2 linked regions of the Homo sapiens genome follow. The protein of the gene in region 2 interacts with the protein of the main gene of each other region in a biochemical or structural test. Each region holds a gene or a part of one and is shown on either strand. Other genes may lie near its edges. The genes, in order: LRRK1 and SCEL.

What was found.
Region 1: the proteins of SCEL (region 2) and LRRK1 form a complex in vitro, tested with the Homo sapiens proteins (2 studies listed by BioGRID and IntAct, with this or other methods).

What each region holds. Positions count from the first base shown.
Region 1 is NC_000015.10:101,038,985-101,055,356, reverse strand, and holds part of LRRK1 (leucine-rich repeat serine/threonine-protein kinase 1), read right to left. Parts: intron 13,124-16,372; exon of another isoform or gene 11,219-13,123; intron 9,377-11,218; coding exon 9,205-9,376; intron 6,864-9,204; coding exon 6,700-6,863; intron 6,265-6,699; exon of another isoform or gene 5,714-6,264; coding exon 5,574-5,713; intron 4,724-5,573; exon of another isoform or gene 3,647-4,723; coding exon 3,397-3,646; exon of another isoform or gene 2,968-3,396; intron 2,900-2,967; exon of another isoform or gene 2,436-2,899; coding exon 2,269-2,435; intron 2,135-2,268; coding exon 1,937-2,134; intron 412-1,936; coding exon 134-411; intron 1-133.
Region 2 is NC_000013.11:77,525,375-77,538,705, forward strand, and holds the start of SCEL (sciellin), read left to right. Parts: upstream 1-10,331; 5' UTR 10,332-10,450; intron 10,451-13,331. UniProt on the Homo sapiens protein: May function in the assembly or regulation of proteins in the cornified envelope. The LIM domain may be involved in homotypic or heterotypic associations and may function to localize sciellin to the cornified envelope.

The sequences.
Region 1 (16,372 bases), on a different chromosome or scaffold from region 2:
CAAGGGAGAGTGAGAAAAATGTGCTTTTGGGGATGCTGAGCCCCGAAGCTTCAGGTGCCTCCAGGACTGCCCGGCTAGCCTGAGGGCTGGGCTCCTACACTGTGGGGCTGGGCCAGGGGATCCAGGCACGTACCTTCTCATCATATACAATGCGAGGCCTGATCTCTGGGGCCTGGTAGCCAGGAGTGCCCTCCACGCCTAGGGCGCCCTCATGGAATGACTGCCTCGAAATCCCGTAGTCAGATAGCTTGATGTTGATGTGCTCCTTGACGTCAAGGGACCACACCAGAATGTTGTCCGACTTCAGGTCACAGAAGATGATGTTTTTCTTGTGCAGGTAGGCCAGGCCCGAGGCGATCTGGTAGGCTATTTTTTGGGTGAGCATGTGTCCCAGGGGTATAAAGGAAGAATCTTGCAAAGAAAAACAATTTTCAAATGTATCAAAATTTCAGTTTTGATAGAATCAAATTATCATGATAACAACTGTCTTTTTGTCTTCCGATCTCCCTAGATACTTTATGATTTTTTTTCTTTTTTCTTTTATTGAGACAGAGTCTCCCTCTATCACCCAGGCTGGAGTGCAGTGGCATGGTCTTGGCTCACTGCAACCTCTGCCTCCAGGGTTCAAGCAGTTCTCCTGCCTCAGCCTCCCAAGTTGAGTAGCTAGGACTATAGGCGCGTGCCACCATGCCTGGCTAATTTTCGTATTTTTAGTAGACATGGGGTTTCACCATGTTGGCCAGGCTGGTCTTGAATTCCTGGCTTTAAGCGACCTGCCCGCCTGGGCCTCCCAAAGTGTTGGGATTACACATGTGAGCCACTGCGCCTGGCCCTTAGATACTTTATATTCCATTGACACATTCTCACTATTCACCAGACTGCCATAAAGGACAGAGAATGGCCTGGTTAAGTGAAACAGTATTTAGGATAGAAATGCTCATCGCTGTAGCTTCATTCCTGATATCTTATTCCTGGAATTGCTGGCATTTTGCTGAATGAGCAAGGGTTCGAAATCTCTAGAGTTCACCTCAGGTCAAGGCTGTCCTACGTAAAGGGGTGAGAGGCAAGTAGAAGCATTTTGTTTGGCTGGGCGTGTGGCTCATGCCGGTGATTCCAGCACTTTGGGAGGCTAAAGTGGGGGGATCGACTGAGCTCACAGTTCGAGAACGACCTGGGCAACAGGGTGAAAGGCCATCTCTACAAACAACAACAACAAATTAGCTGGGTGTGGTGGCGTGTGCTTGTAGCTACTCGGGAAGTTGCGGTGGGAGGATGGCTTGAGTTCAGGAGGTCAAAGCTGCAGTGAGCTGAGATTGCACCACTGTCCTCCAGCCTGGCCAACAAAGTGAGATCCTGTATTAAAAAAAAGTAAAGAATTCTGTTTAAAAAATTATCTTCCATTGAGGCAGAAGTGATTGATTTTCATAGCATTTCTTCTTCCTTAGTCAAAAGACAGCTACCTTTCACCCTCTGGCCACTCTGGAGTTTAGCTGCTCTTTTCTCAAGGTAAATTACTTCGACATTTTATGTTAAAATATGGTCCCACTGACCCTGCGGTCTCAGAGTCTCAGCAGCCGTGTACGTGTGCAGTTGGGAAAGTGATTCAATGCAGCTCCCGTGCTCGGTGCCCTCCCAGCGAGGCCTGTTACCATCCTCCTTTTACAGGCAAATAAACTCAGCGGCTTTCCGGACCGCGGCAGAGCCTGGTCTTAGCCGACTCCAGAGTGTGCGCTCCCCCGTCCTCGCCAAGGCTCTGCCTAGTGACTGGACCTGGCGGGGAGCCTGGCCTCGCAGCCAGGGGATGGTCACACGAGCCATGGGTTGGGCGTGCCCTGGGCTTGCCAAGGCCACCTGAGGCTCTACCCCCCGTGCCAGGCAGGAGGCGCCCGGGGCTCTGTCGGTCTCCGGGGCCGGGTGGGGCGGCGCGCCGCGGTACCTCTGGCGTTCTCGGACAGCACGGTGTTGAGGCTGCTGAGCGGCGCGAGCTCCAGGGCGAAGCAGAGCGGGTGGATGCTGATGCCGATGAGCGCCACGATGCAGGGGTGCTGCAGCGCGTGCAGCATGCTGGCCTCCTGCCGGAACTCGGAGAAGTTCTTCATGGCATCGGTGGCCCGCAGGTGCCTCAGCATGGTGTCTGCCAGGGACAGCGCAGTGTCAGCCAGTAGGACATGGGGTGCCTGCAGCCTCAGGCCTCTCTAAGGCCGCACAGAGCTTAGACCCGGGCAGCATATGTCTGAGAAAAACAGCACCAACCTGGGACCCGCTTACCTGCCGGTACGTTAGCAAAGTTCTTGAATTTTTTGATGTGGAAGCGCTTGACGGCCACAGGCTGGCCCTGGTACCGGGCCCGGTAGATGACGGTGCCACTGCCGCCCTGGCCCAGGACGCTGCCCTCGTCCTCGCTGTGCTCCAGCTTGCTGTTCTCCAGGAAGAGCCTGCCACACACGCCCGGCATCAGCCACATCCCCCCCGCCCTGATGCGGGTGGGTCCTGGGCTGGGTCATTTGCCCCAACGGCCGAGAGTCATGGTTCAAAGCCATCTGTGAGGCTGGACAGATCTGGGCCACCCCGGCCCTGCCACTTGTGGGTGAGCACACCTGGGTAGGTTATGCAGGCTTGCTAAGCCTCAGTCTCCTCTGTACAGAGGGCTCTCAGGACAGGAACGGCCTCAGAGGTGGTGATGGCTGGCACAGGGTGAACCCCACAGAAGTGGTGGCCGTAGAGAAAGGACCCCTTTGGAAGTTTTCTTCTGAAAGGTGACGTTTCCTATTTCCTCCCCGATTCTCTCTCTAGTTATGATCTTGGGTTAGCATAGGTACAATAAACTCTAAGAACAGATTTGAGGGGTCCAAGGCTCAGCGCTAGGGCTACAGACAGGAGTCAGCGTTTGACAAAGAAGGTAAACGAGGCTCTGGGTGGGAGCTCAGCGCTAGGGCTACAGACAGGAGTCAGCGTTTGACAAAGAAGGTAAACAAGGCTCTGGGTGGGAGCTCTCCCTTCTCTCCCCTTCCTGAATGCTTGAGGAGCACTGGCTGCACTTATCTGCTGGCCCTAGAGCTGGTGGGGAGGTAGGAGTGGAAAGGAGAGGCAGCTCAGGAGAGAGCAGCTCTGGCTACGAGGGGAAGGGGGAGCCGTATGGGGAGGCAGGATGGCTGCACTTGCAAAGCACTCTTCCCAGTTGGGCCTATCAAGGCCTCCAAAATGGAAAGCCGGCAGCCTGGTTCCTTTCAGGCAGCCGAGGATGGGAACCTAAAAGGTACTGAGATTGGTGGGAAGCCATGGCCGGGGCACCTGCCCGCCCCAGAGGGGTCTTCCTGGAGATCACTCGGCAACTGCACAGCGAGGAACGCCCCCTGTGACCTGCACTGTGTTCTGGGAGGGGCCTTCGGGGCATACCTGGCCGGGAAGTCGGTCATGAACAGTTCAGGGACCAGCTCCTGCAGCGGCACGGGGAGGTCCGGGTGTCTGGGGCAGGAGATGAAGTCCCGCTCGATGGCCGTCAGGACACAGTCTTCCATGTCGAAGTACTGCACATCCTCTGATTTCTCACTGGGGTCCGTGTGCTGGGCCCAGGCTGTCTCGCAGACCGGGCAGGGCACGTACTGCTCCATGAGTGGCGTCCCGTCGCTCTCTGTGGCTGTCAGGGCTAAATAAGGACAGAGCAGGAGACAGCTTCACAAGAAGGTGGTGCAGGAGGGCCCCCCGAGCAGCACTCTGCACCCCAGGCCCTGAGGCCTTCGCAGCAGGGGAGCTGCCTGTCCTGGCCTGTACCCAAGAGACAGGCTGAAACCCACTGCCACATTCGGGTGCCTTTTTGGAGAGCGCAATTGTTTGTCCTGAAAGATGTGTCCAGGGAGGGTTCAGGATGCTTCCGAGAACTGTCCAGTGGTCGGGACACTGAGCAGGCTGGCTGGGGGGCCTGAGAGGAGTGGGGGGATCCCTCCTGCATGACTGGGCCCTAACAGGTCATCGCAGACTAGGTGTGAGCTATCCTCCAACCATCACGGCAGTGGGGAAGGCACCCTTCTTACAATTAGAAACATCAGGTTTACAATGTCCATGAAGGGCAATGCAGGGGCAGAAATGAGTGCAAATTATCATAGACGAAACTCAGTCACCGGACACGGGATTCCCCCACGCCTCTGAGAGGAGGTGCAGAGAAACACCCTCCAAGATGCCCTGTGGAGGTGCCCTCAGGGCCGGCCAACTGCCTGCTTCATGCAAGGTAGGAGGTGGATGCCTAGAACTTTCCAGGCACATCTGATATCTGCAGGTCCATGTGTAAGGCATCCCGTTGGGAGGGGCCCCTGGCTGGGGATGCTGGCTCCAGGCGATCTGTCTCAGGTGCTCACCAGAGCCCTTTCCATCTCAGGTGACTGTCTAAGGGACCCACCTGTCAAACTGCCCAGCACCTGCTGTGTGGGGAACACTGGCTGGTGGGGAGCTGCAAAGTGCCCAGAAGGGTTCACATGGGCCTAAGGGCCCCCTTAGACAGCCAAGTGCCTCCCAAATCACCATGACACGCACACCCAGCTGACTTCTCCGAGGGCTCCTTTCTAAGCCTTTTTTCCTTGTAGGTCACCCTTCCTGCCAACAGTGTGAAGGACCCCAACCCTGACAGAGACCAGACCCTGGGATCTGGAATGTGTATCCTGAGTGCATTCTGCCACTGCCTCTTAGCCACCTTCCCTGATGCTGTCTGGGATGCAGGCATTGCATGCAGGTGAGGCCGGCCCAGGAGGCCGGGGGACCAGCCGAGGCTTGCAGGGGTGGCACTGGAATTCCAAACCCGCTCTCCCACAGCTGCTTGGCCTCCAGCGTTCAGGGGCTGAGGCTCTCGGGCAGCCTGTCCCACAGCTGCTTGGCCTCCAGCGTTCAGGGCTGAAGCTCTCAGGGCAGCCCCTCCCACAGCTGCTTGCCCCATTAAACCCCAGATGGCCTCCCCCTGGCAGGCTGCTCTGGGAGTCGTCTCCACCCCAGGAGCAAAACAAACAGGAGGCCTCAGGAACTTCACTCAAAGAGTACTTTTTTTGGGTGAACTATCAATGAAGAAACAGATCCAAAGGGTCTGAGAAGGGCGGTGTTAGTGGTTTGATCACCGCCGGGATGGGTGGGGTGGCAGGGGAGGAGAGCAAGGCCCCTTGGCTGCCACGGCTCCCCTCCATCCCTGCCCCTGCGCAGGGGATAAATTTCCATCTGCCGGCTCCCCTGCAATTTCAGCCACACAGTCCTCACTATGAAAACAAGACACGTGTGAGCTCACACTGAGCATCTCCGTGGACCACTCGTGGTACCAGTGTCATCTTTCTTGCCACGCCTGTGGGCAGCTGGCAGGCCGCTTCCCTGCACATTCCCAGTGGTGTCCGAGCCCAGTCCTCCCCGTGGGACTCCCCCCAGTGACAGAGCTGGACTTCTCGGGGGCCAGGACTCCCACCAAAGTGCTGTTAAGACCCCCTAGTTTTCTTGGGCTGAATCCCAGTGGGATTTTTGTCCACCCCGAAAGCAGCAGCCCCACCCTGATTCATAAGAAATATTAGCATGAATGAGGGCTTGCTTCTAGCATCTCCTCTTACCGGGAAACCACTGATCAATCAAGGAATTGACGTGGTCCGTGATGAAAGCCATGGCTGAGAAGTCCCTCACTTCTGATTGGCAAACAATTTTCATTCCTCCGCTTTTCTTCTTTTTCCAGTTCACGTCGGAAGATTCCACACTGCAATCCAGAGACCAAAAGGAGCCCATTGCGATCTGGCTCTGGGGGACCCTGGGATGATATCCCTACCCCCAGGGACAGGAACCAACCCCCGGGGACCTGGAGAGACTCTGTGCCCTGCAGGACCGATGGGGGACTCCTCCCTGTATGTACGTGTGCGTGGCCCTGCCTTGTTCTTGCCCCGGACCTGGCCTGGTGAAGGAGGCACGAGGAAGATTGCAGTCAGGGACGCTCAGCCTGGGAGCTGACCCTCAGGTGAGGCCCTAAGGAAGTTCCCAGACCTCCCTGAACCTCAGTATGCTCATCTGTCCAGCAGCAACCCTGGGCCTTAAGTGAGAACATCTATGCGGAAGAGGCAGGTGCCAATCAAGCCCTCTGTAAAGTTACCTCCCCTTTTCCCTTCTTCTCCTCTCACAGAGCTGAAGAATATTTTGCAAAGTTCATTGTAAACATTAAAATAATCTTGGGTGTTTATCATTCGTTAAACCTGTTGGGCTGACTTTAGGTCTACCGCTCTCAAAAAACCAAGAATAAATGGCACAGGGAGCTGAGTTCCGTGTCTGGTTATGGGCAGTGGAGATGGGGGCTGAGGAGTCTCAGCATCCCCTGTCCCCAGCCTGGCTTCTCACAGAACAAGGGGACGGGCAGGATGGCTGCAAGGTCACCATGGTGACCTGAATAACCATGGGAAGTGCCTGAGGCTCTCCTGAGCTCAATGGCCGCCACGTCCCTCAAGTCCTCAGCTGTGGCCGCCACATCTGCCTTTGCCTTTCCCGTCCTGCAAGGGGGGCTCAGCAGGGGTGAGGAGACCGGAGCCTCTGGGACACTCGTGGGAGGGCCTCACATTTCTAGCAAGCTGCCATGACGAGCCGCTCTCACGAGCAAAATTCTGGACACCAAGAGGATGAGGCATCCTGCTGACGTGGCCCCGCGGTGGCTGCTGTGGCACCTGCTGACCTGGCAGGTGGGCTTCCAGGTGTTCCTACCTGAGGTAGCCCCCATCAAAAGTGACCAGGAGCCCTTCCTGCCAATAGATGGTCTGATTTCTTTTCACTCTGAATGTGCTACAGCGATTTCTCTGGTTTCCTGTAAAACTGTAAATGGTGACTTTCCTGTTCCTGCTTTTAGTATTCTTCTTGTTTTCAAAAAGCTGAAAGACAGAGAAAAGACCCTGCTTAAGTATTCTGGGCTCCTCGCTGGCCCTGGGCAGAGCTCTGCAGAGGCCGGGCTGGGCCCCATCTTGATAAATGTCCCCCATCTTTCCCACCCTCTCCTCCCACGCTGCTCATCCCTGCTGCCAAATTGAACGTTACATTAGCTGACGGGGTCTCCAGGGAATTCCGGAAACACAGTTTTTCCAAAGAATTGAAAAATAGGCTTTCCTTTAAAATTTTTTTCCCTTTCTGACTTTACAAGCAAAAATTCATATTAGAAAATGTAGAAAATACAGAAAAATGTAAGAGGGAAAACAAAACACCAATTTAACACCAAGCAGAGAGATCATTCAGATTTTGGTATATATTATTCCAGGATTTTTTTTTTTTCTATCTCCATATGTTTGTGAAAAACAGCTGAAGCCATATTGGATTTCTAATTTCGTATATGTTAAAAAACCCCACCTTTCCTATGCCATTAAAAACACACATAAAATTCATTTTTCTAAAGTTTAATATTCTATTAAGCATAGTAATTTCCTGAACCACTCTCTTCTGGAAGTGTAAGTTGGTGCCAATCTTTTGCTCCCTCAAAACCACCTTGAGTTACATGAGAAAGGCACAGAGCTTTCTCTGATTGAAAATGATGTCCTCAGTTTAGATGTTTACCAGTCGGATTATTGGTCGAAGGGTCTGATCGTTTTAAAGCTCTGGATGTATCCCGAGGAATCGCTTCTCGAACGACGAGACTGTCCTGTGCGCTGACTACCAGTGTGCGCGGGGCCGCTCCGTGCCCCGGGCTGGGGATTACGGCTCAGCTTTTTGCTAATGTGATGGATGAAAACTGGCATCTCACTGCTGCTTGAATTTGCATGCCTTTGATGAGTGATGAGACTGCACTCTTTTCCCCCTCCTGTCACCCATCTGAATTTCAATAGGACTTCTTTCCTAACTTCGAGTGAGGGAAGCTGCTGCCCGGAAGGGCGCCCTGGCCTCCAGGCCCAGCTGGGCCCCACTTGTCAGCTCAGCCTCCCACGATGCTAGTGCTCCATGACCCTCCCTTGAGAAGACAGCGGCACACAGAGTTCAAAGGGAGGGCAGAGGAATGGGAACGTAGGAGCACCAGCGCCTGCGCCCACTCCTTCAATCAGTGCACCCTTCTGGCGCTATTAACCCATCTCCCTCCCCGCTAGCACAGGCTGCTACTGTCACGATGGACTTTAAGGCTTTTGCATTGATTTTTTTCTTACCATTTCGGTAAAAATGGGAAGATCAAAGAACATTTTTATAGAGCTAAGAAGTTATAATTCAATAAGGGCTTTCTAATTAGGATGTAGCAACAGTAAACTCATACGGAGTTTAATGTCAAGGATTTGACAGTCAGGGATTATGCCAGAGGTTCGCAAAACCAAAAGTGTGTCAGAATCCCCTGGAGGGTTGTGAAAACCAGTGCGGGGTTCCCCCTGGAGTTTCTCATGCAGTGGGTTTGAGGTGGGGCCTGAGAACGTGTGTTCCTCACACGTTCCCAGGTGAGGCTGATTTTGCTGGTATAGGAACCCCACTTTGAAAAACACCACTGTAGCAAATGTTGCTTCCATGTTCCTGCCCTGCATGAAATTAATGTTGTCTGACAGCGGGGACGCCTTCCTGTAACCCCAGGTAAACCCACAGAAGCTAACTCCTTGGGCGGGGGGTCTCCCGTGTTACCAGAACCAACGTACAGTTCTGCACAAGTGGTTCTCAAACTGGACTGCACAGGGGACTCGCCTGGGAGCCTTAAAAATACCAAAGAGGAATCACTTTTTCAAATGATGCCACACTCAAAGACCCTGATTCAATCGGTCTGGAGTGTGGTCTGTGTCTTTTAGAATTTCCTCCAGGCGAGTCTAGCGTGCAGCCAGGACGGCAAAACCGTGCTTCTAACTTCACGGTTCTCCAAGTGTGGTTGCTGGGCCGGCGGCATCACCTCGGGGAATGGATAGAAATGTGAATTCTTGGCCTCAGTCCACACCTACTGAATCAGAACCTCGGGTGGGGCCACCAAACTGTGTTCTAACAAACTCCAGGTGGTTTTGAGGTGGGCTAACACTGAGAACCACTGTTTATAAAGGGCGTGTTCTGTCTAAGGAGGGTGCTGCTTTGGAACTCCCAGGATGGCTTCAGTGGGTTGGCCAGCAGCCCATGCCACACCTGCCCCCTGGCACTACATTGGTGGCATGGCTCTAGGAGAAGGGTCTCCAGGCAGGGCCCCCCAGCAAAGGGCATTCCCCTCCCCCAGTGGTACAACTGTAGGTGGCTCTCGGGCATCTGTCTATGCAGAAACCGCAGCCATAATACCTGCAGGTCCATCTCCGCCAGGCTGATCAGCATCCGTGCTATAAACCTTTGCCAGAAGCCAACGGGAACGAAGCTCATCTTAAATACCCTCTGAATGGTGTTGGCTGTGGGGTGCCGCATACCGTGGGTGTCCAGGCCAGGTTTAGATGGAAGGAGATGGGGCAGGAGGTAGCTGAAACACACCAAGGGGGACTGGTGAACAGTGGGGCCCAAGCTCCACTGCAGGGCCCTGACCCCAGCAGATGGCCTGATCTGGGGACAGGCTGTGCTGGAACACCTCAGGCTGCTGGGTTCCTTCCTCCCAGGGCCTTTGGAATTCTGTTATTAGTAAGAGAAGCGTGGTTTATATGCTAAGAATAAATACTCCAAAGGAAAATGAAGACTGGTCCCATTAATATGAGTCTATCATGGTTTCTAAGATACTAGAATAAGGCTAAGGGAAGACATGAAAACATCATGGTCCTAAAAATGTCAGACACAGCAAATGGGACTCAATTCTCTATAAACGGGGTTGCAGTTGGGGAAATAACATTAACTTTGGTTGATGAAGGAAAAACAAACACAGCTGCAAGGTTTCAAGGACAATGCAGATATTAGGGTCAGAGTAACATTTTTGGCCTTTAAAGCTATTTATTATTCTTGGCCCGTTGACACGACGCGATTGCCTTAAAAGTTAGAATAGGCCTGTTTTGTGCGGAAGAGGGATGTTTTACGAGAACACTCTCGGTCATCATAAAAATGCTGCATCATTGCATCGGCAAGGGCTTCACGGCTGAAACCTGGGAGGTCCCTCCAAAAGGGTGCCCGAAAACCAGCAACGGCTGCATCCTGTGGGGCTGCGGGGGCAGGCACTGGACAGGTACAGGACGGCCCCTGGTGTGCAGATGCTGCACTCCTTCCCAATAAAGGTTTTACCTTCAGCTCTCCTAATCTTAAATCTATTTCAGTCCAATAAATGTCCTTAGAACTTTCTGGAAAAGACTCCCTAAACTGTAAGAAAATTCAGTGACAGCCCATGGCCCGAGCATACAGGCGCAAGTCTCGGCTCTCACTTACACGCTCTGACACATGGGTATACAATGGGGAGAGAAAGGATCCCCTCTTGGCAGGGCTGGTGAAGGTAGACGGGGGCTGTGCAGATGACACAGCAGACACAGGTGGTGAAGCAGGAGGCCTTTTCAGCCTTTCAGGTCTTGAGTGAAAGGACATTCCCAACCTCTCGCTAGATGCCTCTTCATCAGAGTGTCCTGTCTTATTCCTTTACATCTGAAAAGTCCTTGCTTCTCTATCTGCTCAGTGTTTGTTCCCCATACAGGAGGCCCTGGGCCGTGCCTGCTGTTTCTTTCTGCTTTTTCTACTTCATCTCATGCATCCTGGGTCTCTCATGTGGCCCTCTTACAGTGGTGGTGCCCCATGTCTGTCTTGCTCTTCTCCTTGTCGGAGTGTGCTTAGAGAGTGGGGGGAGCATTCTCTGTCCCCAGGCGTCCCAGCACGATGTGCGGTGGCACACAGAAGAGGTGCTCCATGATGTTTTTGAGGGCAGAGGTTTAGAAGGTGACATGGCAAATAAAGAGATCCTGAGTGGCCACAGAAGCCAGTTCTCAAGGGAAGCAGTGGTCTCCAGGTAGTGGAGGCCGCTGGCTCCGGGTTTCAGAGCAATTACGAGCTGGGAAAGGCCGTCCCAGGGAATGACCAGTGAGTCGGCAGGACAGGTCCTAAGAGGTAAATTCTTCATGTGTTTGATGAACGTAAAGCAGTGAAACCCTGGCAGGGCACAGTGTCTGCACGGAGGTGCTGGCTCATGCCACCCCACTGAGACAGCCTCAGACAGGGGCCGCAGCCCTTCTCAGAGTCTGCTGAGAGGCAAGGACCTTCCTCCTGAAAGAAGCACAAAGGCTTAAAACTGTATGGTACTTCCAGGGAGTTCATGGAGATTTTCTGAGGGGCTGGAGGGGTTCACTGCAGGTGGGAAACCATGCTCTGAGAGGAGCCGCAAATGTGTCTGTTTGCACAGATCCAGGGATCCCAGCAGCCTTAGAAAGCTGATGATGCCAGGAGCGGGGACTTGCCTGGGGCTCAAGGGAACCATTATGCCTGTGCTGAGATGAAACGTGTCCCACTATTCCTGGATGTGTACAGAACCCGACACCATGGCTATGAGTACCTACCACGAAGAAACAGTAACAATAACTGGACTGTCAATACTGGATGTCTTGGGAGCTTAAGAGACACTGTTCTGAGTATTTTACATGTATTTGTCAGTGGCTGTTCCCATGCAGGAGGCCCTGGGACATGCCTGCTACTGTTTCTTTCTGCTGGTCTGAATATTTTACATGTATTATCTAATTTAATCCTCACAACAACTATCATACTTATGGTAATTATATTATACCCATTATGCAGACGAGAAAGAAGGTAGTTGGGATTCATACTTGTGCGTCCCAACTTCATATTCTAACCTGCTGTGCCATAAGCCTTGGTGAGGACCTGGCCGTGATCACACTGATGGTCTTGTTCAGGCCAACACACACACACACACACATTATAAATACGTGTACGTTTTATACATATAAAAACTGACTTCATATAGATAACTGACTTTCTTTTACTGAGTACTCGTATCTCCTCACTCCTCTAACCTGCGATAAAACAATCTGAAAGTTGTCAGATCCGGCAATGTTGTAAACACACAGGCTGCCTTACTCTGAACGTTCTCATGGACCAAAGTTAAGGACACCGCTGGGCCATGTTATGAGGGGCTGTGGAATTTTGAATTCCTCTTTGGGGTTTTATTTTGTAAGGAACCCAGAGAGCTGGAGCAGCAAGAAAGACTTGAGGCCCCTCCCATACCTAGTGGGAGGTGGGTGGGGCCTCAGGCAAAGGTGGGGCCAGTGGCTGGTTCCCAGGTGGCCGGGTCTCTGGCCTCACTGTGCAGGATCCAGGCCTGCTCCCCAGAAGTCTCCAGGTGACACCCCTGTAGAGATCTGGAGCTGAGGACGCAGAGTGGCGACGTGTTCTCTGGGTGCTGCATGGCAACATTCTGTGGATTTGGATCCTGTGGATTTGGATCCTGGATACAGCTTCATTGCCAATATCAGCATCAAACCCAGGAAGCGGCTGATATGGAAACTAGTACTCAGAGGCCTGAGGACCAAGCTGGTTTAGGGCAGAGCATCATGGCAGGTCTCACCCCTCGTGTGCTCCCCCAGCCTGGCCCTCGTAGGGGTCCCACCCCGAGGGGAGGCGTTCAGTTCAGCTACTTCAGAAGATATATCCTGGCAATGGGTAGCACAGAGGAGAGTAGGAGGAAAGAAGAAGCCAACACTACACTTGGTTTTGATGAAAACCAAGCCTCAAAAGTGAGAATTTGAAGGAAGAAAAGTTAAGTAATAGCTCATAAAGAGTCTGCACAAATCCCCCGACAAGAGCACCCTGCTTGTAAGGATAGGGGGCCTCACTCCCTCTCCCCTGCCTTCCATGGGCCAAATGCCAGGGCCAGAGCACATGCTGTGGGGAGGCAGAGAAGTGTGCTGCCCAATGCTCAAGGGCTGACAGCATAACTGAGGGTCCGGGCAGGTGGGTAAGAGGTAACAAGTAGGGGAGTGTAAGGGCAGTAAAAGCCACAGGAGGATGGTGGCAGAGCTCTCGGAGGGGCAGTAGGCTTCTCAGAGGCCCCTGGGCTGCAGCAGAGCAGGTGGCTGGGCATCCTTGATCACATGAGAGGAGGTGGCATGGGGTCAGAGGTCCTCAGCGAGGGGTCAGGGGTGACGAAGACTGAGGAGGACCCCTGTCTGCCCAGAAGACAATGGGGTGACACCTTTAAAAAGACTGACAGAAAAATGACCCAGAATTCTACATCGAAGAAAATTATCCAGCAAAAAATTAGAGTGTTAATAAAGACATTTTCATATAAACAAAAGTCTTGTCTAAAAAAGAGAATTTGTTTCCATCAGACTTAGACTTTAAGACATGCTACACGTAATTCTTCAGGATGAAAAGAGATTATACCAGATGGAAAGAAGTGAAGAGCACCAGAAACAATCAACATTTTTCCCTTAATTTCTTAAAAGACTATTGATTGTTTAATTATTCAAAGCAAAAGTAATAACACTATATTATGGGGTTCATTACATATATTGTAGTCCTCCCTTATCTGCAGTTTCTTTTTCATGGTTTCAATTACTGGTCCAAAAATATCAAGATATTTAGAAAGAGAGAGAGAGAGACCACATTTATGTAACTTCTGTGACAGTATATCATAATTATACTGTTTTGTTGTTATTGTTGTTAATTTCTATGTGTTGTTAATCACTTACTGGTTTACAATTAAACTTCATCATAGGTATGTAGATAAAGGAAAAGGCATAGTATATGTAGGGCTCAATACTATCGCAGTTTTAGGCATCCACGGGGGTCTGGAAATCCACCAGCTGTGGATAAGGGGGACTACTGTATAGAAGAAACGTGGATGACAGCAAGAGTACAGAGGGTGCTGGGAGGAGTAATGTCCTGGTATCGTGCTAAGGTTTTTGCATTTAATTCAAGGTGGTATAATATTAATTACAAGTAGATTGTGATAAGGTAAGGATGCATATTCTAATCCCAAGAGTAACCACTAAAACACAGTACCAGGAAGAATGGCCAAAAACCCAACAGAGAGCATGAAAATACTAAAATAAAATTTAACTCAAAAGAAGGCAGGAAAGAATGAACAAAATAACAAAATCAGATGGTATAAATACAAAATAAATAGAGAAATAGTAGGCTTAAACCCAACCATATAATTAATTATGATAAATGTGAATGAATCAAATATTCCTATTAAAAGGCAGAGATTATCAGATTGGATAATGTGCTGTCAGCAAGAGATTCCTTTTTTATAGAGATCATAACCTGCTACTAGAAGAATAGGGAAAAAACCCAGGTAGAACTAAAAGAGCTGGTGTGGCTATTTTAACATCAGACAAAATAGACTTCAAGAAAAGGAGTATTACCAGTGATAAAGAGAAACATTGTATAATGAAAAAAGGGTCACTTCATTACACAGGCATGACACCAATGTGTATATGTAACCAATAATGGCTTCAAAATATATAAAATAAAGCCTGTCAGAACTGGAGAGAGAGGTAGACTTATCATTAGATATTTTACCATCTCTCTCTTAGTAATTGATAGAATGAGTAGGAAAAAAATCAGTGAGAATACGGAAGATTTGAACACGTTGTTTACCACTCTGAGCTAATTAAGGTTTATAAGATACTACAGCCACAACACAGAAAACTCGTTTCTTGTGTGCACTCCAGACTTTCACTGGGAAAGATCACACATTGGCCCATAAAATAAGTCTCAGTGAATTTCAAAATACAGAAATCTTAGAATATATTCTCTGACCAAAATAATATAAGATATATTAGAAAATCTTTCGAACTAAATGATAAAAACACAACATAGCAAAATTAGTTGTATTTGTCATATAAAGCAGTGCTTAGAAAGTTATGGCTTTAAATGCTTACATAGAAAATAGGAAAGGCTTAAAATAAATGACCTAAGCTTCTACCTTAAGAAGGAAGAACAAGAAGCACAAATTAAACCCAAAGTTAGCTGAAGGAAGACAATAATAAAGAGCAGTAATAGATGAAATAAAAGAGAAAAATAATAGAAGAAATCAGCAATGGCAACGGTTCGTTCTTTAAAACGGTTCCAAAAATTTGATAAACACTTAGCAAGACTGATCAAGAAAGAATGAGAGAAAAGACATATTATTAATATCAGGAGAGAGAGCATATCACTACACATTCCAGAGATATTTTAAATATCTTTATATTAATATATTCTGCACCATAGATGAAATGAAAAAATTTATTGAAAAAAAAATAACTTACCAAAACTGACACAAGAATAGAAAATTTTAATAACCCTATAGCTAATAAATAGATTGAATTTGTAATTAAAAATCCTCTTGTGAAGTAAACTCCAGGCTATAAATTCTATCAAACTGTTAAGGAAGGTCTAACACCAATCTTATACAAAATCTTGAAGAAAATAGAGAAGGAAAAAAATCTTTTCAATTCATTTTATGAAGACAGCCTATGTCTGATAACCCATAAAGACTTTTCATCAAAGTACCAACCAATATCCCTCATGAACATAGATTAAAAAATTCTTATGCAAAATAGGAGCCACTGAAATCTAGCATTAGATAAAAAAGATAATAAATCATGAACACTTGGTATGAATCTTGGGAATACAAAGTTGGTTTAACATTTGAAAATCCATCAACATATTTAACAGAAAAATAACTGAAGAAAAAAATTAACAGAGGCAGAACAAGCATTTTTGGGGGACAAAATTCAGTACCCATTTATGATAAAAGCTTTTAGCAAACTGGGAATAAAAGGGAACTTCCTCAATCTGATAAAGTTTCCATGGATAACAAAGCTCTGCAGAAAACATCACACTTGATGGTGAAAGACTGAATGCTTCCCCCCTGAGATCACACAGAATGACGCCTTCTCTCATCCCTTCTATTTAAACCTTCGCTAGAGATCCGAGCCAATGCAATCAGGCAAACAGAGCAAAAAAATATGTGAAGATTAGAATGAAAAAAGTAAAACTGTCTTTTTTTCAAAAAAGAAGCATACTTAGAAAATCCTGAAAAATCTACTGGAGCTAATAGGTGAATTTAGCAAGGTTTTTTGATATAAGGTAAATATTTAAAAATAAATTATATTTCTGTATACCAGCAACAAGAAATGGAAATCAAATTAGAAGATATGTCATTTACCCATATCGGAGAACATAAATTATGTAGACACAAATTTAACAAAAGATGCAGAAAATCTGAATACTGAAAACAAACCACCGTGGAGAGAAACTTTTTAAAAACCAAAATAAATGAGAGATATACCATGTTCATATTGGAAGATTCAATATTTCTAAGATGTCAGCTTTCTTTGATCTATAGATTCAATGTAATCTCCATAAAAATCACAACGGTTTTTTAAGAATCAGACAAGCTGATTCTAAAATTTAGATGAAAATGCAAAGGATCTAGAATAATCCAAAATAATCTTGAAACAGAAGAACAAAATTGGAGGGTGTCATATGCTGAATAATGAGCCCCAAAATATCCAGGTCCTAAACCCTAGAACTGTGATTGTTACCTTAC
Region 2 (13,331 bases):
ATATTAAGTAAATAAGTGGAAAATAAAATACAAATCAACAGTAAAAAGTTAAAAACGTCAAAAATTTAAAAAGAGCAAATTACCTCATAGTATTTTCAATGACCTCAAAGCTTCTCTCTCTCTTTCTTTCTTTCTCTCTCTCACTCACAAACACACACACACTCCCAAATTATTGACGCCAACTATTTTTTAATAACTTTTAGTTGAGAGAGGAATGAGGTATTGGTGGGGGATATTGTAAAATTAAAGAAATAACAAAGTATACCAATTCCAAAGTATTTAAAAATCCCTGTTTTCTAGGGATACCATTAAAATTATCACAAATTTTGTTCCAATAGAGGATAGTCCACTAATTTACAATAAAGCTTGAAAATTAAAAAGTTCTAGAATTCTCCTCTTTTCTCTGGAGGGTTTATTGTTGATTATATAAAGTAAAGGAACTGGAGACAATTTGAAGATGAGGTGGAAGGGGGTGGATGGAATAAGTGAACTGGAGGAGGAAGTGAGTGGGGGAGGTGAGGGCTTTTCAGATATTGCAGATATTGTGAGTGGGGAGGGAACAAGGACACACTTTTGGGACACCCCAGTGGTTTGAGAGATTCAGTCCATCAGAATGTGCAAGAAGTAAAGGAAAATACCAACAGAAACACTAGCATAAACGAGGGAGACCATGTGAGCCACATTTTCCTAGCGTAGTCTATTCAATGTTGAGATGCTGAGAAGGAGAAGCGGGCAAAGAAAGAGCCTGGCCATTTCATTTTCTTGTCAGATGGCTTCTGTCCCATTTCCTCATGTGTCACATGGTAATGCAGGTATATTCATCCTAGAAACAATCGCTGAGAACTGGCTAAGTCAGGACTACCGAAGACTCAAGGATAAATAAGCTCAGGGCTCAGTCTTCAAGGTGTTTACATTATGATAGGGGAGACAGACACAGAGCTGTCAACGTGTGTGTGTGTGTGTGTGTAGGTCTGCTATATATGTATTATATATGTATGAATCTCATATGTATTAGAGATCCATAAGTATAAATATATTGTGTACATATATGTGGAGGTATGTACATATACGTGCATAGGTAGTATATACAGCTTAGGTAGTATGCTTCCCCCAGATGTAGCTGGGCACAGGTCTCACATAATCATTGCAACCAATACTCAAGCATCCTGTGATCATTTGAAAACATGCCTGTTAAATGAATACTGTTCATGTCACTCATGAATGGAAGGTAGAAAATGACTATAAAAATTCATGTGTTTCTAGCATTTGTTTACATGGCTTTTAAATACAAAATTTTAGAAGCAATCTAAATATGTCACCTACTTTAACTTAATAAAAGTCATAATAGTATAGAATTCTCTTGTATCTATCTACTAAATCAAATTATTGCATGCATTTTGAACTTCATTTACTTAATGAAATATTTAGGTTTTTTTAATTGTAAAAATAGAGGAAGTTATAGGAAACTTGGAAACATTGTAAAAATATGATAGGTGTGGTAGATTGGATTATGGTCCCCCAAAGATGTTCATATCCTAATGTCCGGGCTCTGTGAATATGTTATCTTACATGTTAAAAGGGACTTTGCAGATGTGATTAAATTAATACATTGACATGAGAGAATTATCCTGGGGTATTCAGGTGGGCCCAATATAATCACAAGTGTCCTTATAAGAGGGAGATGAGAGGATCAGAGTCATTGACAGGAGATGTGGTGGCAGAGCAAGAGGTTGAAATGACACCACGAAGAGATCATGGACCAGGAATGCAGCTGACCTCTAGAAGCTGGGAAAGTCAAGGAAACAGATTCTCTCCTTAGAGCCTCCAGAAGGAAATAACCCTGCCGACATTTTGACTTTAGCCCAGTGACACTAATTTTAGACTTTTGACCTCCAGGACTATCAGATAATAAATTATGTTGCTATAAACCACTAAGTTTGTGGCAATTTGTTACATGAGCAATAGAAAACTAATATGACCATGGATTATTAGGGGAGAGATAAAATAGATTTCAAGAAAGAAAACTCTGCTGTGATGGATATGGGAACACTGAGGAAAGAGAAGAAAGATTGGGTCTAAGAAGAGAAAAATGCCATGCCAATCAAACAGAAGAGAATGTAAGAAGCAACAAGTTATCATCCAAGAGAAATGAATTATGCAGTACTAAAGTAAACACTGCACTCCACAGGGACACCTCTCATTCTGTTCCTTTTTTCTTGGAAGTTCCTGCATGATGAACCTTTTAGAAAACCATCAATAAGTCCCAGGGACTGACTCTTGAGAGGATCTTCATATACCTTCTAAAACCTACATTTAGTCATAGAAAACTAATGATATTTATCAACAACATTGTGTATTAAAGAGCTTGACCACTGGGCACAGTAAGTGTGCCTGAGAAGAGGAGAACTACTAATTGTGCTTATGGTTTTGTTCTTAGATATACCTCATGTATGAATAAATAAAATGTATTAACAGTTTACTAAGAGTTAACTTTTAGATAGCACCTTAGCAAAATTGCAGGCCCTGTTCTAAGTGCTTTTTCTGTGTTAACACAGTTGATCCTCGCAATGACCCTATGGGAAAGGTACTGTTTTATTATTCTCGTTTTACAGGTGAGAAAACTGAGAAAAGAGGAGTTAAATGACTTGCCAAAAGGTTACTCAAGTAGTCATTGGCAGAGACCATCTGGCACCTGAATTTGTACTCTTAAGCAATAGTTAAACTGCCTTTGCTATTAAGTTCTTCTAGAATGGCATATGGTATGCTGGGTACAACTAGATTATCATATAATGCAGTTGGGTATTACAATAAAATAATATACAGAGTTCCCTTGGAGCAGGGAGAAAGGGGGAAGCTAGCTGTGATTGGCGTCTGAAATGGTAGGAAAAGCTCCATAGATCAGGTTTTGTGTTTGCAGGGACTGAGAAAGTGAGTAAGAGATCACTAAAGTGCACAAGAAATGGACATTTCAAGTCACAGGAATGGCATTAATACAGATATTAAAAGCCTAAAATATTATAATATGTTTGGGCAACAGCAAGGATTTTGATGTGGTTAAAGCTTAGGGCACATAGTGGGAAGTGGTGGGAGATGAGGCTGGAATAGTTGAAAGTGACTTAACAAGACATCTTAGACCAACTTTCTGCATTTCCTATTTTCTCCATCCAATACGGTATTTGAAATGTGGCCAGTGTAACTGTAGAGCTGAATTGTAAATTTATTTAATTTTAATTAGTATAAAAATTTTAAATAGCCACATGTAGAACAGTAGCTGCTACATTAGACAGCAGAGTTGTGTATGAATCTAAAATGTTTGAATTTCATGCAACACGGGGAACTTATGATGGGTTGGAAAATGGGGAGCGACATGATTATATCTGTCTTTTGGAAAAATAGCATTAGGGAATGGACTGTCTTTACTGGAGAGAAATTTACAACTGTATGCAAGGCCATGCTTGTAGTTCACTTTTAGCAGTTCCAAGGCTCAGGGGAACCATGCATTAAACCATCAGTGCTGTTGCTTTAGTCACAGCTAACTGAGATGGTGTAGGTGTCTGTCCTTTTATGGCTAGCCAGAGACCCAAGAGATGGCCCCGTGCAAGACCTCTTCCCACAGAAACTCAGTATGGGATGGTGGCTAACTGACTCAGCAGATCTCTCTCAGGGGATTTAAACTGAAACATATAGAGACTATGATAAACTGGTAGCATGGCAGAAAGAAGCAGGTAGAGAATCAAGGTTAGAGAGCTGAGTCATGAGCATGCGAGACTCAGAGCTGTCCTTGGGTCCCCAGATTTGTGCCAACTAGTGTTGGTTTTGCAAAGTAATGAGCAGCTTGTATATTTAAGATCTAAGAAAGGCTGCTGAGACAATATTCTGTCTTCCTAACCACCCCTAAATCTTTATACTAAACCCTCTGGGATGTGAAGGTTAATTCTAGCAGGCCTGAAGCTAGCCTGAGTTGTTCTGCTGAAATGTGAAATGAGCCTGCACAGCCCTGATCTGAAACATACTGATTGGTCGCATGGCTTTGTAACCAAGCACCCCAAGAGTTTCAGGTTGATTTTTACCAGCTAATCATTATTGTTTATTGATAACAGTGAGACTGACGATTTGTGTCTGCTGAAACCCCAGGAGGCAGGGTCACGTAGCAGGATATGTCTATGGGATCAGCAGGGAATAAGATACTGCAGCTGAAACTCCATTTGGGTGTTTCATTCACAAGTCAGTGGTTCTTGGCCTGAGGGAGAAAGTGGATCCTGAGAAGAACCTTGTGGAGAAAGGACAGTTGGAACTTGCCCTTGGCTCCGGCTTTTTGCTATGAGACAGCCCCTAGCTGTGATGCTTATCTCTACTTTAATGCAGTTGTTACATTTTATCTTTTTCTTGTGATAAACTGTAGACTTCGAAGTATCATCATTTTGGATTCTTTGGGTCTGCTCTGCTTAACTGTGCTGCCGTTAGCTGAGGTTTCCAGATCTTATCACTGATCCGTACAACCTGAAAGAGCCTAACTGACTGAGCAGGGGTTAGAGTTGAACTGGAAAGAGACCAGTTAACAGGTGATGAAAACAGTGTTTTCTCAGGATGATGAGGGCCTGAATTAGGCAGTGGTGGGAATCAAGTGGAAGGGAGACTGAATTAGGAGGTAGAATTGATAGTAATAGTTGAGTGATGAACTAAATTGGATGTAGTTTAAAGCAGTGGGGAGAAGGTGAGGCAGGAGGCAATGGTGATGGGGGTTCCAACCTTGGGCAATAAGTTTAGCTATGATAATTATTATTTGAGCAATCTCTGTAAAATGCAGAGAAATCTTCCCTTGTTTTAAGAAAGCAGTGAGAGGGCCAGGCAGGGTGGCTGACCCCTGTAATCCCAGCACTTTGGGAGGCCAAGGCAGGCGGATCACCTGAGGTCAGGGGTACAAGACAAGCCTGTCCAACATGGTGAAATGCCGTCTGTACTAAAAATACAAAAACATTAGCTGGGTGTGGTGGCAGATGCCTGTAATCCCAGCTACTCGGGAGGCTGAAGCAGGAGAATCACTTGAACCCGGAGGCGGAGGTTGCAGTGAGCCCAGATCGTGCCACAGCACTCCAGCCTGGGCAACAAGAGCAAGACTCTGTCTCAAAGAAAAAAAAAAAATCAGTGAGTGTTCCGGGTGAATTGAAGAGAATACTTTAGTCTTTCAAGAAAATCAGATTTATAAACCAGATAAACCAGACTTTAGGTAAGCAATAAATACCCCTTATGCATGCACACTTGTTTATGATTATTATTCCTTCATTTAATCAACAAACATTAAATGTTACTATATGGATCATATATGTATATGTCTGAGTAAATATCTATACGAGTCAAGAATTGTGCTATGTGTTAGTATAAAAACAAATGTGAAGGCCTGGTCTCTGATCTCAAGGGGCTTATGATGTAATACCATTAAGTATTTGGTGATGAAGAGACATGAATAAAGAGAATTAACTAAATTGAGGAAAATTATGAAATAATCTGAGTTTAAAAGTAAGATTTTAATTACAAAAATTGGCCATTCTTATTTTTTCAATGGGAGAAAAAAAATTCTTACTTCTAATCCCCATGGAATGGTTTATTTCAGACTGCAGCCAGGAGAATTACACTATATTTGCAGTGTGGCTCATGATTGTCTCCAGAAAATGTGGACCCATAACACCCTGAGGAGCTGGGGTTGCTGGGGCTGCCAAGTTGCTATTTTGGTAGAGGAAATGAGGCAGGAAAGTTGCAGAATTGTTCACTATTAAGGGGAAATGTGGAAGACATTAAGAAGATGACAGAGTGGATGAATGGTTCTTCTTCTTCTTGACCATCTAATCATTGTCCTCTCAGACTTTAAAACTCTGCATCAAAATCACCTCCCAGGTTCTTCCTTCTCTCCAGTATGTGATGTCTGGCATTGAAAATTTCTGTGTATGACTTTATCATGGTGTGTTATAGCTATTTAATTCAATGTCTGTCCCTCCAAACAAATTGTAAATTCTTGGTGAGCAAGACTGGGTCTCATTAATTTTCCTTTCCCTTGGGATAGAAGCAATACTAAGAGAATTATGGGTACTTAATGCTTGTTAAATGAAGAAATGATTGAAAGAAGACAAATGAGAATAAGAAGGATAAGTTGGTAAATCCATTACGGAGGGCAGTTTGGCAAGATTTGCTCTACCAAAGTTAAAATGTGCAAACACATGGGCCCAGCAATTACATTTTTAAGAATTTATCCTACAGATTCACACATGTGCCAGCTGATTTATGTACAGTGTTATTGATGGCAGCATTGTTAGCAGAAGTTTGAAAATAATGGAAATGCCCATCAACAGTGGATTGATGACATAGATTATGGACTATCCATGTCATGGAATACCAAGCAACTGTGAAGAATCAATATAGCAAGATCTTCAGAATATAATCTTAAAGGAAATAAGCAATATTCAGAACAGTATAATATATCCATATCTTACATTTGCTTGTATATGCATAAATGTCTCTGGAAAGACCCAGAAGAAACTAATAACTGCTTTTTTTGTTGGAGAGAAAGGTTTGGAGGAAAAGGAAGACTTTTCATTTATTCCATTTTATACTTTTTAGTTTCCAAACAATGTTATATATTACTGGGTTCAAAATATAGCATAAATATACAAAAAAGAAAACTGCACACGCATGTTTATACCAGCTTTATTTATAATTGCCGAAACTTGGCAGCAACAAAGATGTCCTTCAGTAGGTGAAGTGAATAAATAAATAAACTGTGGTACATCCAGACAAAGGGATATTATTATTACTGTTATTTTATTTTATTTTTTTTTTAAGTCAGGATCTTAGTGTGTTGCCCAGGCTGGTCTTGAACTTCTGGCCTCAAGCAATCCTACCACCTCAGCTTCCCAAAGTGCTGGGATTATGGGTGTGACCTACCATGCCTGGCCTTGGAATATTATTTAACACTCAAAAGAAATGAACTATTAAGCCATGGAGAAAACTTAAATGGAAAGACATGACGAAAACTTCAATGCATATTACTATGTAAAAGAAGCCAGTCTGGAAAATGCTACATACTACATGATTCCAACAATACGACATTCTGCGAAAGGCAAAACTATGGAGACAGTAAAAAGAACAGCGGTTAACAGGGGCTGCAGGGAGGGAGGTATGACTAGGCAGCACACAAAGGATTTTTTAGGGCAGCAAAACTACTCTGTGTGGTACTATAATGGTGGATACATGTCATTAGGCATTTCTCCAAACTCAAAGAATATACAAAACCAAGAATGAACCCTGATGTAAACTATGGACTTCGGGTGTTAGTGATGCATCCATGCAGGTTCATTAATTGTAACAAATGTCCCACTGTGATGTGGGATGTTGGTAATGGGGACACTGAGGGTATACATGAACTCTTTGTTGTTTATTCTGAATTTTGCTGTGAACCTAAACTCAAAAAAACGGTGCTCATTTTGGCTGGTTGTTTCTTTGGATATAACACATAGACAAAGCAATGTGATGTTGCAACATCTAATTTTATGAGACAGGGTCAGAAAACATTCCCCCATTCAAGACCTGTGGTGGATATTGCTAATTAACCATGGACATTCCCTTGTTGAGTCCCTACTTGCTTACAAACCTCAACATATTCCTCCAGGAAGCCATCACCAATCAATTGGCATTTGTACCTGAGATAAAACCCATTTGGCATTTCAGCTTCTGAGCTTACAGTTCTAGAGAGATCTTAAGAACTCCAACACTGAAAGTGAATAGGTGTGGTGAAGCCAAGTTATTCCAAGCATGCCCAAGTCTTCCCAGTTAAACACCTGAGTGAAACTAATGCTCAGGCTATTTGGCTACCTCCACACCCGAAAACGTTCTTGATTCAACCTCTTCACATTTGAGATTTTAAATTTTAGGCAGTCATGTCTGCTCAGCATGAAGAGGTCTGAATTTTGCTCAATGGTTTAGAATTAGTCCCTTTTTATACTAGAGATTTGATTCTAAATGAAAAAACACTGGTTTGGCTTAGCAGTGTGGATGGTCTGATGTATAAAGTAAGAGAAACCCTTAATTGCATGCAGAAATAATTGCTTGGAAGCTCAAAATCCATAACTTGAGTAGCTGCACTTTACTTCATTATAAGATAAAAACTTATCTTTCTGGTTCTGTGTTTCATGAAGTAATATATTTCAACATTCTGTAATGTAAATTACAACTTATCCCTACAAGGGAGCTCTTAAACTGTTTTCTTTCTTTTTGGCTAAGTTCTAAGGCTGAAGATTGCTTCTAGTTTATCTTTTGAGTTAAGTCACGTCTTTGTTTTTCAGCTTTATCATTTGTAATATTAATATTCAAACCAAGATTTTTGGGCATCACAGAAACTTAAAGCATATTTTAAAAATATTTTGCATGTATAAAATTCCATAAAAAAGCTGAGTAGACACGTATATATGTTTTACTTTGAAAGAACATTTTCCATTTTAGATTTTCAAATTCCTCAGCCCAGAATAAGGGAACATCAGGGAACATACAGGAAGTGGTCTCCCAGTCACAATGACCACATACTGCAATTGCCTTGCTCTTCAGTCTGGGTTTCTGCTTCTTGTTACAGTCATTTCAGTGGGCGTCACTCAGCTGCATTGTAGTTTTCAGGAGCAGTTGTTCAGGGGGGATTTGGTTCATTGCTGGTGTGACATATGAATGACGATCACCCAGGAAGTTCTGATGACGTGGCTTCTCTCAACAATGTTTGCTAAGCTTCTTTAAAGCCTCTTTGGCTCTTAGGGAAGGTGTGTTTCAAAACCTGTAACAGGAGTCCCCGCCTAGAATGGCTCTTCAGTGTTACTCCTTCCTCCCAGCGGAAGCAGCCTTTGTTTTTTGTTGGGTTTTTTTTGTTTTTTTTGTCTGTTTGTTTTGTTTTTTGAGATAGGGTCTCACTCTGTCACCCATACTGGAATGCGGTGGTGTGATCACAGCTCACTGTGGCTTGGTCCTCCCATGCTCAAGAGACTCTCTTTGCCTCAGCCTCCTGAGTAACTGGGACCAAAGACATGCACTACCACACCCAGCTGATTTTTTTATTTTTAGTAGAGATGAGATCTTCTCTTACTGTGTTGCCCAGTTTGTCTCGAACTTCTTGGCTCAAGTGATCCTCCCACCTTGGCCTCCCAAAGTGCAAGTGAAAGCCACTGCAACTGGCCAGAAGCAGCCTTTGATGTTGGGTCTACTGCTGCCCTCAGCATTGAAAGAAGTTTCAACCATCCTTTTCACATTTTTTTTTTTTTTCTGAGACAGTCTCACTCTGTTGCCTAGGCTAGAGTGCAGTGGTGTGATCTTGGCTCACTGTAACCTCCACTTCCCTGGTTCAAGTGATTCTCCTGCCTCCTCCTGCCAGAGTGGATGAATGGTTCTTCTTCTTCTTGACCATCTAATCATTGTCCACTCAGACTTTAAAACTCTGCATCAACATCACCTTCCAGGTTCTTCCTTCTCTCCACTATGCGATGCCTGGCATTGAAAATTTCTGTATATGACTTTATCATGGTGTGTTATAGTTATTTAATATAGCTGGGGTTACAGGTGTGTGCCATCACGCCCAGCTAATTTTTATATTTTTAGTAGAGATCAGGTTTTACCATGTTGGCCAGGCTGATCTTGAACTGCTGACCTCAGGTGATCCGCCTGCTTCCACCGCCCAAAGTCCTGGGATTACAGATGTGAGCCACCACGCCTGGCCCCTTTTCACATTTTTTTATACATGGATAAATAAGATAGAGATTAGAATTCTTACATGCTAGGTGTATTTTCCCTCTGATAGTTTTACAAAATAGTCTAGGTGTAGAATGTGTGGAACAGACTTCTTTTGTGTTTTCTAATCCTAGGGTTCCTGGGTTTCTGAGAATTTGTTTGTCTTGAAGATTCCTTTAAGCCATATACTCCTTGCATGCTTGTCTGTGCCCCTGCCTTCCAGGTACTATGGGTGTATGGGGGTTCCTTCTATCTTGAGTTTTCAATTTTATTTTTTGAAAGAGAATACAAAATAGGTTGGGTCCTATGCCACCTTGTCAGTGATATGGTTGTGCATACTGTTGATATCAGTTAAAAGGGTGATCACAGGAGCATATATATATATATGTTTTTTTTTTTTTTGCATAAGGCCATAAGTTAAACAAAGAATTCAAACAAAGACAGTAGGTATATGAGTGAGAATGCTTTAATTGAACTGGTATTTGTACAAGGTGACACCCTGTTGCATACCACACACCTCCTCCCTGAGTGACTCAGCCGCTGAGCAAGAAACCTCTGAACTGTTCACTAATACAGTCAGGTAGAGGTTGAGACTCCACTGAATAAACTCTAGGTTCCCATTTCTTTCAGCCAGATCCTCCCAGGGAATCACTACAGGCTGGTTAGCCAAAAAGTCCTGATTTTCTGCTCAATAGAGGTAAGTTGAATTATACTTGCAAACAGAAATACATCTGCTGTATGTGCACAGCTTTCTCTGTGTTCCTTACAAATGATTAAAATTAGAACTTACTGTATTATCTTTGTCTTTTCTTCCTGTAAATTTTGACAGCCTCCAGCTGGCTGTTAGCTCTGCTCTTCCTTGCTGTACTTTTAGGTCACATTGCATTGAACTTCTTGGCAATTTTACACGTTATGGGCATCACAGAAACGAGCACCTATTTGATTTTCTGGGTGGGAGCTGTCAGCTGGTGAATCCTGCCACACAAAGGATAATAAATTCTTTAAGTGAAGGGACCAGCACCTGCTGGTTTATTTTCTCAAGCGACTATACAAACATTTTTTAAAGGATCTTTCTGTTTTCATAAATGATGCTTTTAGTGAAATAGTGAACTCAAATATTGCTTTATAGTTAATAAGTCATATTTATTTTTTTCTCTACTGCTAAAAATATTGCAAGTTGCTGAGCTATGAGAGAGAGAGAGGTTTATATTTATGAGGTTTTTGTCTCCACCCTATCTTCCCCAAATAAGAAAATCACCATTTCTCACTTGAAAGTACCAAGGAGTAAAGGCAGGGTGTGGGAGCAGAATAAGGGTACATGGTTCCTCACAGGGATCTGTGGGCATCTGGCCAACTTCTCTATGGTATATTCTGCATTCTAACCTAAGGAGTGATTAATGTATATGGGGGCAATTTTCAAACTTTATTCATAGCCTAGTCCTGAAAAACCAGTTTTGGGAGACTTTTGATAAGGCTAGAAGAGTTCTTTTAACAGAGCTTTCTTTTATAATTAATAGCTAAGCTGACTTGTGTTTTTTCTCATCATTTCTATTTATGATACAGAGCTGTGGGATTCAAATGCAGGGGCCACTCACAGCTTGCAAATTGCAGCTCTGTGTCCTCCAGAGAGGTGCCCCCACAGCATACCTGGCTCTATCTGTAGTACTTGAGTTCTCATGGCTTCCTATTGCTGACAAGGTCACCTGCAGTCTGAGAGGGGGTTAGACACACCAGTGCTCATTTCCCAAAGGTTTACAGAAGAATTTTACAACTTGGCTTTCAAGTGTTTATAGTAACCAGAAAACTAAAGTGTAGCAAGTGTGGATAATTTTATTTTTCATAAAATGTGATTACATTTAAAACTGTCTTTCACTTCCATAGTTTATAACGTAGATAAAGCCTTCCTAATATATGTGGTGCTCCAGTGTTTAAAGTATTGGAAACATCAATTTGAGAAAACTGAGAAATGACAACAGTAAAAATTTTAGTAAAACATTCAGATGATCCTAAATGTCGGGATATGCATAGAATGCCAACAACAGGCCAGAATTTTTATTGGAATGTTAGCGTCGTATAAATCTTAGATCTAATTGACAGAATATTTCAACTGAAACGGAGCATAGGCCCATCTAGTCTAATGCCTGAATTTTCTAGTTGAGAAAATCAAAGCATAAATGTTAAGCAACTTGTGAAGATCAGAGTAGCAGAACCAGAGCACGATGCCAGATTGCTTGTCTTTTGTCTTACTGAATTTTCTCAATATTTTTTCAAATGCTTTTTATCATAAAATATGTAGTAGCAATAAATGAGCCACACTCCATCACAGACTGTGGTTACCCAGCACATGTGGAAATATTATAGTGTGTATGGTATGACTAAGACATAATAGAATACGTTTTCCAACTTGTGGCTTATGGAATCAGTGTTGCCGTTTATTATATTTATGAGATTTTCATCTCAGGAGCCAGTAGCCCCTCAGCAGGGAGGGGATCTGATGTATGTGTGTTAGCTGTGGTCTGTACAATCAGAACACCCTTGCCTCGAATGCCATTCTGTAGGTGATGCTTACCTGACTGCCTTCTCAGACTACCAGAATTATGATGAAATACCTGAGAGGTTCATATTCCTGGGGACTATGTAAACAAAACAAATTTTGAATGACTGAGCTCATACTGTGGAATGAACTGAACACAATTCACGAAGCCGTCAAATTAAGCAAACATTGTTTAACTGAGAGTATCTTATACGGTTCAGGCATCAACTCCCAGCATTTCTTAAGAGTGAGGGGATAAAATCTTTGGCCTTGCAGTCCAAGGGAAATCTTTATTGGTTCCATATGGCTTCGCTTTCTGTCATTGTCCTGCTTCTAGACCATTTGTTGATCATTTTCCATTTTCTTTGGCTGGGTACTTTGAAATAAAGATTTTAGGTATTAATTGCTGCATACATAGCTGGAGTTGTTCAAAGCTCACTTCTGAATCAAAAGTCTTTTTTTTTTTTTTTTTTTTAAATGGAGTCTCGCTCTTTTCCCCAGTCTGGAGTGCGATGGCACAATCTCGGGTTACTGCAGCCTCCGCCTCCCATGTTCCAGCGATTCTCCTGCCTCAGCTTCCTGAGTAGCTGGGAGTACACGTGTGCACCACCACACCCGACTAATTTTTCTATTTTTAGTATAGACGGGGTTTCACCATGTTGGCCAGGCTGGTCTTGAACTCCTGACCTCAAGTGATGTACCCGCCTTGGTCTCCCAAAGTGCTGGGATTACAGGCATAGCCAATGCGCCCGGCCTTAATCAAAAGTCTTTATCAGTTATATTCCTTAAGTGTTTCCAGCTTACCATTGTACAAATGGTAAACTGTGATTTTTTTCCATGAACTTGTGATTTTGAAGCTCGGGAGAAGCTCTTCCTCACATGGATGCTTTGCCAAATGACAGCTACACGTACTAGACTTTCATTTCATGTCGATTACTAAATTTTTTAAGGACATGAGTCATCCTTTTATTGTGATACTTAATTGGAACAGTGAATTTTATAGCTACCTATTCAATGACAACTGGTTTACTTCTAGATACAAGAA